Linked DNA regions of Homo sapiens: region 2 is linked to region 1. Evidence: fine-mapped expression QTL. A gene starts in region 1. The other region holds a variant in brackets. All regions are shown on one strand. Distances are from middle to middle. Region 1 holds the start of MME (membrane metalloendopeptidase). Region 2 has its middle 72 kb from the start of MME.

Region 1 (4,398 bases):
AACCTTCCCAGTGAATTATTAATAAGCGAACCACAGCTAGACCTTAAAGTTCTGGATACAAAGTCTTAAACATGCTGTCCCCTTGATTACATGAGGCTATAAGCAAGGACAGACTATCAAATAAAAATATTTTATTACACAATGAAAACCGTGTCTGCTAAATAAAAGTGGAATGTAATGTACCTGAATGTTAAAATGTCTTACTTAATGGTTATGTAAGGCATGCTGGCTTAGTCTCACCACCCCTGGGGTTATGATATGGAATTGCATTGATTGTAGTCCTATTTTAATAGTGTATTGGTTGGGCAAAGGAAAGAGGGGAACAAATTTAATAATACTCTGGACACTTTACAGAGAGGTAAACAATAATAATTCTCCCAGTCTCCCCATGTTTCATGACTGTCCTAAAGAACACCTGAATGTTAAGCACATTTGCTAAAGTATTTCCCTTTCCTGAATATTGTTCCCCCCGCATATGTCAGAAGACAATGTAGAGAAATGTTTTACTGGTATAAAAGGACTTTTTTTTTTCTTAGTTCTTCCTTAGAAATGACAGTCAGTGTCCCTGTAAAGTAAAGCGAAGGGGTGAACCAGGGCAGCCTCAGGGTTAAATTACAGGTGCTCTGTGGAAACTCCATGCCTTGTGGTGTAGTAAAGCTAGTGGATAAGCATTTCTTTCTCCCTGTAAGTTACTTTCCCTTGGCTTCTCCTCCTTACCCTTGAGACTGGGTACTGAAGCAGCTGGGCTCTTAATGGGTCAGCACCCAAGTTTGCAGAAACAGTTACAGAGAAATGAAGACAGTGACAGAAGCTGCATCAAAACAATATAATCTTTGAATCACCTGCAAAGTCTTCCTCCATCTCCCCCTCTTGTAAATGCCCTGTAAATTCTTAAAGGAAGTCTTTTGCTCTTAGTAGCCTTTTTTCAAAAGCATTGAGCAAAAGCAGAAATGATGCAAGTTTAATCTCCTAATTAACTTTGTCGTTCATTTCCAGTTAATTCTGGAAGGTTCACAATTTTTCTTTAAGACATCAGGGGACAGTATCTGGAATCTCACTGTGGAACATATGACTAAACCCCAAATACCTGAATATCCAACTTAACCACACCCAATCCCATAGAGAAGAGTAAGGGGGACAAGTAAACAAAAGAATACAAAAAAAAAAAAAATACCAAGTTGAGGCTTATAGTCCCATATAAAGCAGGGTACGCAAAAACATACCTGTATTCTTAAAATATTTCACTTCAACTGAAGATGTGTTAAATAAAAAGTTTAAACGGAAAAGTGGACACTGCCACAGACGAGAATAGAGAATTAGGAGGTCTAAGATAACAAGAACCTGCAAACTTCAGCTCGACAATATTACCAACAGAATAAATTACTATTTTAAGTGTAAGCTTAATTTCAAAGCAATGTAAAGCAGCAATTCTTATACCAGTTGAGCATAAGCATTACTATATCAGACAGTCAAAGCAGGAAACCTGGATAACTGATTTGTTAAAAAGGAAATCTCATTGACTTACAGACTTAGACTTAGCTAAGCAGTTTTCATCTTCACTGCACATTATAACATTAACTTATATCTGCAGGTTCCTGAAGCTGTGCTATGCAATTACAGTTTGTTCTATGGAAACTGAGGCACAGGAAGAAGGAGAAACAGTTTCCATATTTAAACTGTGTCTGCAGAAGCTGAGGACAGAGGTACTCAGGATAAATCATCTTCTTGTTTCCCAGACATTAATTAGGTGTTTCCCAGCCTGAAATACGGAGTTCTGGACACGAAGTGCCAACCATATTACTCCCCTGGTTAGTGCTGCTCTACAACCAAAGACACAGGGTTAAGTCCAAGAAATTACCAGACAATTTTTTAAAGTGCTAGAACCCACAAAAATGGCAGGGGATGAAGCTACACGCCTTCATACAGTCGATTTGCCGACAAGCACTTTCCAAATGCTGACGCTGCAAGTCAGGTACTAGTTTTCAGTTTAATAAAATTGCCATTTGAATCATATATGGGGGAGGAATCGACTTGATCGAGAAGCTAAAGAGGGATATTTGGTTGCAATTACCCTTATTTTGAAACCAGACAAATAGACTGAAACCAGTTAAGAGGTCTTAAACTTTCATCTACAAAAGGACACACCAGCCCCGCACCGACCAACCCTTGTGAGATTTAAGCATTAATTATATAATAGGAAATCAGGTTAAAAGCAAGATGAAGAGGTGGGATAATGAAAAGATCTTCCGGTTAAGAAAAGTAAAAATAGAAAAGTGAGTTACAAATGAGAAAATCCGACAGAAACCAAAATGAAAACAAACCTTGCTTTTTAAAAAGAAGAAAAAAAAATCAGTGTCTGTACAGCAGAATGGCAAATTCCCAGCCCCCAAATCAGCCCCGGTGCAATCTGGTAGCGCGGATCTCGGTAACAAAACATAACTCCCCAAGGCAGAGGCCGCAGGGAACTATGGAAATGAACCTGAAGAGCCAACCTGACGTGACTTCCAGAGCCCTCCTCCAGGTCACCCTCTGGGCCCCTCTCCCTCCCCTCACTCTTCAGGTCCCAGTAGCGGCTCCTTCCCAGGGCACGCCTCCTCCACGGCCGCAGGGTCCTGGGCGCTCGGATCGCGCTGGACCTTAGCTGCGGACCCTGCTCAGCGCACCTCCCGGCAGCCGCTCCCCTCGGCTGGCTCTGCCCTCCCCGTGCCCGTCCCACGGGCTCCCAGCGCCCTGGGCGCTCGCGCCCTTTGGACCTTTCTCCCTCAGCTCGCTCTCCTGGGACTCACCAGTGGGATTCGGGAGAAGTTGGAGGCTGCTGAGCCGACACATCCCGACCAATGAGCGCACGGGGCCGGGTGGCAGTGGCGGGCTGAGAGCCCAGCCAAGCGCCTCTCAGTCCGTGCATCCGCCCAAGGCGCGCGGGCTCCAGGCTGAGGCCGGACTTGGGGGAGGTTCCGGACCCGCCTCCGCCCGGGCCGTGGGGCGACGAGGCACCTGGGCATCCCTCCGACCCGCACCCACAGAGACTCACCGTGACCCCTCAGCAGATCCCGCGCCAGGAGTTGGGCGGCTGCTCCAGCCTGCTCTCGGTCAAGCTTCGCCACTTGCACATCTCCGCGCCCCGCGCGTCTCGGCGCTCTCACGGCCCACCCCCCCCACCCCCTACCCCGCCTCGCCGCTGCAGGACCAGAGAGAGGAGCAGTTCCCTGGGTGACCTGAAGGTTTCCGCTAGGTCTCCCAAATCCAGTCACTTCATGTGAGGGGGCCGGGGAGACGGGGGGCGGGCGGTGGCAATGAAAATGTCCCATCCTCCCCACCCCCCATCTCACCATTCCCAAAAGGGCTTTGCTAAACATTTTTAGAATTGCTTAGCTTCGGGGCTTTCAAGAAAACAATACACGGGCTCTTCGGGATTCTCTAGTCCTGAGGGGGCTCCATCTCTCCCCTGTGGACCGGAGACTATAATGCTTGCCTCTTCTCACGCTCTTCTTTCGCTCTCTTTCCCGCTCCCTTTCCTCCCTGAATCCAAGCTTCCTTCCTTCTTCATTTAAATGTCCTCTCTCCCTCCCTCCTTCGTTTTCTTTTTTCTTACTCTCCCTCCCCGTTTCCTTCTTTCCTTCCTTGCTCCTGCTTTCTCCACCCCGCTTCCCTCTTTCTTCCCTTTCTTTTCCTTGGTCGAAGTACTCTCATGTCAAGATCTGAACTGAAACTCTCCGCTCCCACCTCCTGACTTCAGGGAATCTTAAAACGTGTGTACATCGGAGGTTGAGGGTGGGGAGTGAGAAAGAGAAAAATAAACTAAAGTGTGTCTGCTCTACCTACTGAAATCAGCCGTAATGCGCCTGGACCCTCACAGTTTAATGCAAGCAAGCAGCGTACCCCTTTCACTCAAGACACAGCGATTCCTCCTCAAAGGGGTAAATACAAACAAGGAAATAAATACTTTAGGCACAAAGGCAGTTTCTTTGTAAAAGCTACCTTTAGCAGCTATAATTGCCAAGGAGCTCAGAGGAACTAAACTTCCTTTTTTTTTTGCTTCCAGTGTACAAGTACCTTTAATACTGATCCCTTTCCTCTTTTGAATCACAGGTAATTACACACACACACACACACACACACACACACACATACACACACATATTCACACTCCACTGCGGAATTCATACTGAAATAAAACTGGGTTTGCAATTATCTGTTTTTAATATCAAAATGATTTGCTGCTTGAGAAGAGTCCCCTTGTGCTAAAAAATTTTCCATCTTTTTCATAGCAGAGAAAGCTGAAAAGCAAGGAGAAAAGGTAGTTCATCCTAATAAGTGGAATACAATGGAGAGACATTTCCCCAAAAAGCTAACCAATCTTTAAATAATTCGATTAATATAGAGGAAAAATGGAGTGTG
Region 2 (4,398 bases), 73 kb after region 1:
AGCCAGTTTCCACCCATAGTTATTCATGCATAACTATGATAAAAATCATAGAGGGGAAGAATTTAACCTATGGAGACAATAAAGCAAAACAAAACACAAAATAAAAAAAAAAAGTAAGACCTCTTAAATTGTTGATTTTGTTTTCATAGAACACACTATGTATATCATTTATCCACACCCTTCATGAACATTAATTATAAGGAACTTTAGTATTTAATCAGTATCAGACTTTGTTTGGATAACTTGAGGAATGTTACCATATGTCTTGTAAAGATGGTGACATTAAAAAAAACACAGTCAAAACTACAATATAGCTGTTGTTTCTTGACATTCCAGCAATGAGAACTCTTTTTTTTTTTCTTTTGAGATGGAGTTGCGCTCTTTTTGCCCAGGCTGGAGTGCAATGGCGTGATCTCCGCTCACTGTAACCTCCGCCTCCTGGGTTCAAGCGATTCTCCTGCCTCAGCCTAGTAGCTGGATTACAGGCGCCTGCCACCACACCTGACTAATTTCTTTTGTATTTTTAGTAGAGACGGGGTTTTGCCACGTTGGCCAGGCTGGTCTAGAACTCCTGACCTCAGGTGGTCCGCCCGCCTCAGCCTCCCAAAGTGCTGGGATTACAGGTAGGAGCCACCATGCCCGGCCCTAAGAACTCTTGATAAACTGATATGTGTGCCTCCCAATAGCACAATAATAATGGAGACATTCAATACCAACTGTGGAGCTTTAAGAGCTTTTGCAGGGCTGTTAGAATCAGAGAAAGTATAAGGTACTCCAAGGTGGTTTTGTCCTCATTTTGTCACATTTACATTTAGAAAATGCTTATAAATTTTTAGATGAATCAGCACATCCAGTTTCCACACAATTCCATATAACAAAGAGTTTACAGCATTTTACTGACATTTTCAAAGAAGATACAGAACAATCACATTGGGATGCGAGGGGGTCAGAAATTGGTGAGACTGTTTTTCCTGGCTGAAAAGAGAAAGGGCCTCAAACTCATAAATTAGCAACAATTATGCTTTTGTGCTATGTCACTAGATTCCGTTAGATGTCTATCTTTGTAACTTTCTTACAGACTAATTCCTCACTGCTAGCAAATTTTTAGCCATGTAACCCAGAGTTATAAAGGAAGGCATTTTTTTTTCATTGCTATTCTTAAACACCGCCCCCCTTCTTTTATAACAAAAACTGAAGTAAATATAGTATGTGTTCTGGAGCTTCATTTTCTAAGGCTGGCTATCCTCGATAGGATTGGATGAACAGGGTAGGTATTGGAGTTAGGTGGAACCGGGGGCAACAGAACTGGCACCAGAAGTAAGGCTGAAGTGAAGCCCAGCATTCTAAGGGTGTAGCTAGCTTACCTGTGGTTGAAGCCAGACACTGCTCTGGGATTCTGATATGGTTAGGCTTTGCGTCCCCTCAAAATCTTATCTTGAATTATAATCCCCGTAATCTCCATGTGTCAAGGGAGGGACCCAGTGAAGGTAATTGAATCATGGGGGCGGTTTCCCCCATGCTGTTCTCTTGATAGTGAGTGATTTCCCATGAGATCTGATGGTTTTATAAGAGGCTCTTTCTCCTTTGCTAGGCACTTCTCCTTCCTGCCACCCTGTGAACAATGTGCCTTGCTTCCCCTTTGCCTTCTGCCATGATTATAAGTTTCTCCAGCCATGC[T/C]GAACTGTAAGTCAGCTAAATCTCTTTCCTTTATAAATTACCCAGTCTTTCACAGTTCTTTACACAGTATGAAAATGGACCAATATGGGTTTCCACCAGGAGCTTGGAGTCCAGTGGATACTTCGGACTTTTGCTCATATAGTAGTTCCCCCATAACCAGAAGGGATTCTAAGAACACCAGTGGGTGCCTGAAATCTCAGATGGTACCAAACCCAGTTGCTGTAAATCAGAACACATTTCTGTTAATGTCTTCCAATGACAAATGTAATGACTTTTGCATCTTAACCAAGCACTTATTATGCACTGTGGCTATAACTTTTGCAGTTTGAAGTACAACAGCACAAATTTATTTTTTGTTCTTCACAGTTTAATGGATAGAAGATTTGCTCTTACAATAAATCTTAGCAATCTCAGAACATTTTATATATATATATATATATTTATTAATGAATACTTACAGGAAACATTTTTTAGCTCCTCTTATATTTGAATTGCTAGCATCACTGCTCTTGTAGTTTGGGGCCGTTAGCATGTAAAATAAGGATTACTGGAACACAAGCACTGGGATACCATGACAGATGATCTGATAAGAGATCCTGTTACTAAGTAATTAGGGAGCCAGTCAAGTGTAACTGTGAATATGCTGGACAAAAGAATAATTCACAAGAAGGACTGGCCAGAAAAGTGGGTCAGTAGCTCTTCTCACTGTGGGTGAGAGTGGAAGCTGAAACCAGAACTCCAGATTAGAAAAATTACAGCGTAGAAACCACAGCAGAAGACAAGTCTATGACTGGTCAAGATACGTAGTGAGGAAGATTGGAACTGAGGGATCACATTGACCTTCCTGACTAGCTCTGCCAGTTCCAGGTCCTTGTCTGACTGGCATTGAAGGAAACATGAGGAGCAAAGAACAAGCCCAGAAAGTTTCTAGATGATTATATTTCTCCTATACCAAATCACAAAGATTGTCAGAGTGAATGCAAAGCAATCCCCTAAGTTCTTAATCAATGTATTTATTGATATGGTTTCCTTTTGTAGCAAGATACTAATAAATACATTAAGAACCTATTATAGTCTAGTGGCCAGGCACTGTGGCTCATGCCTGTAATCCCAGCACTTTGAAAGGCTGAGGCGGGTGGATCACTTGAGGTCAGGAGTTTGAAATCAGCCTGGCCAACATGGTGAAAACCCACCTCTACTAAAAATACAAAAATTAGCTGGGTGTGATGGGGTGTGCCTGTAGTCCCAGCTGCTCGGGAGGCTGAGGCAGGAGAGTCACTTAAACCCCGAGGTTGAAGTGAGCTGAGACTGCACCACTGCACTCCAGCCTGGGTGACAGAGCAAGACTTCCTCTCGAAAAAAAAAGAAGAGAACCTATTATAGTCTAGAAACTTTAAGTAGCATGATTTCTTTAAATCCTAGGTACAATAATCTCTTGGTATTCATGGGGGATTTGTTCCAGGACCTCTGTTGGATATCAGAATCTGCCGATGCTCAAGTCTCTTATACAAAATGACACAATATTTGCATATAACCTACACATATTCTCTCGTACTTTAAACCATCTCTAGATTACTTATAATACCTAATACAATGCCTATACATCACTTCATTCCCATGGATTCATTGTAGTACTTGGTATGAGGTAAACTCAAGTTTTGCTTTCTGGAACTTTGTGGAATTCTTTTTTTCCCAAATATTGTCAATCTGTGGTTGGTTGAATCCACAGATGGCAAACCCACAAATATGGAGGACAAACTGTACGTTACTTTCATTTTATAGAATATAAAACTGAGGTTCATAGAGGTGAAAAGAATGCCCAAGGTGATAAGGTAAATTGTGAAGCCAGGATTCAGAGCCATGGCAAAAGGCAGTGATTTTTGCACCATGCTCTGTAGACACTTTTATTTGGTAGCTTTTGCTGATCTGTTTTTTCCCTTCCACCCAGCGTGCCTATTAATATAGCTTATTTAATTTGTAAGAATTACTTTTAAGTTGTTTTGATATTCTTTGGACTGCAATGAGAGCTAGGATGTCCTTGAGACAGAATATCCTCTTGTGCTTTTAGCCTCATGGAAACCAGTACCCAAAGCATGTGGCTGAGACCCTGGGGTTGACTCCACACTGCACTTCAGAGTGGTTGACAAATTGCTCATAGCTGTCTGGGGTTAAAGAACTCATCTCTGAGAACACAAGCTTTTTCATTCCCTTTTTAAAAAAGACAAGTGTGCCTTCTTTTATTCTGCACTTCTAATGATTGCTTTACTTTGAAATGGTCCCTGCACTTGTTATTTTGTCTCACTAGTATCTTCACTCTTGCACTCCTCTCAGACTTAACTTCCATTTTTAACCATGACAGAATAGCTTCTTATTCCATCTAAGCCTTTTCAGATGACACAGGAAGAGATATCATTATATCTCTGTTGAAGAGAGATATACACTACTGCTTAGAAATACTTCTTGATTATTGCATTTAATTGGAGTGGGTGGCCTATTAATACTGATGGAGGAAGAAAATGAATCCTGCATTTAATATGAAAATGTATTATGAAGTGCTTAATGCAGATTACTTATCTAATGATTGAGGTTAACTGATGTCAGTGGTTTTCAGACTGTTGACAGCAGAAATTAAAAAGAAAGCTACCACATATATGGAAATATATTTAGTAAATAAAGGGAGTTTTGAAGGTCACTCTCTGTGTTAGTCAATTTTCATACTGT

Evidence for each region. PIP is the estimated chance that this variant, and not a neighbour inherited with it, causes the effect. A credible set is the group of variants that fine-mapping cannot tell apart.
Region 2: its variant is the best candidate, but not a certain one, in a credible set for the expression of MME in whole blood (INTERVAL, PIP 0.64).

The regions. Positions count from the first base shown.
Region 1 is chr3:155,078,390-155,082,787 of GRCh38, reverse strand. MME (membrane metalloendopeptidase) reads right to left here and starts at 2,469. Exons shown (of 23, transcript NM_007289.4): 1 at 2,322-2,469.
Region 2 is chr3:155,005,882-155,010,279 of GRCh38, reverse strand. No RefSeq gene overlaps it. Among named protein-coding and RNA genes, the nearest start is that of MME, 72 kb to the left of the region's middle. The variant T/C (reference allele first, on the strand shown) is at 1,678.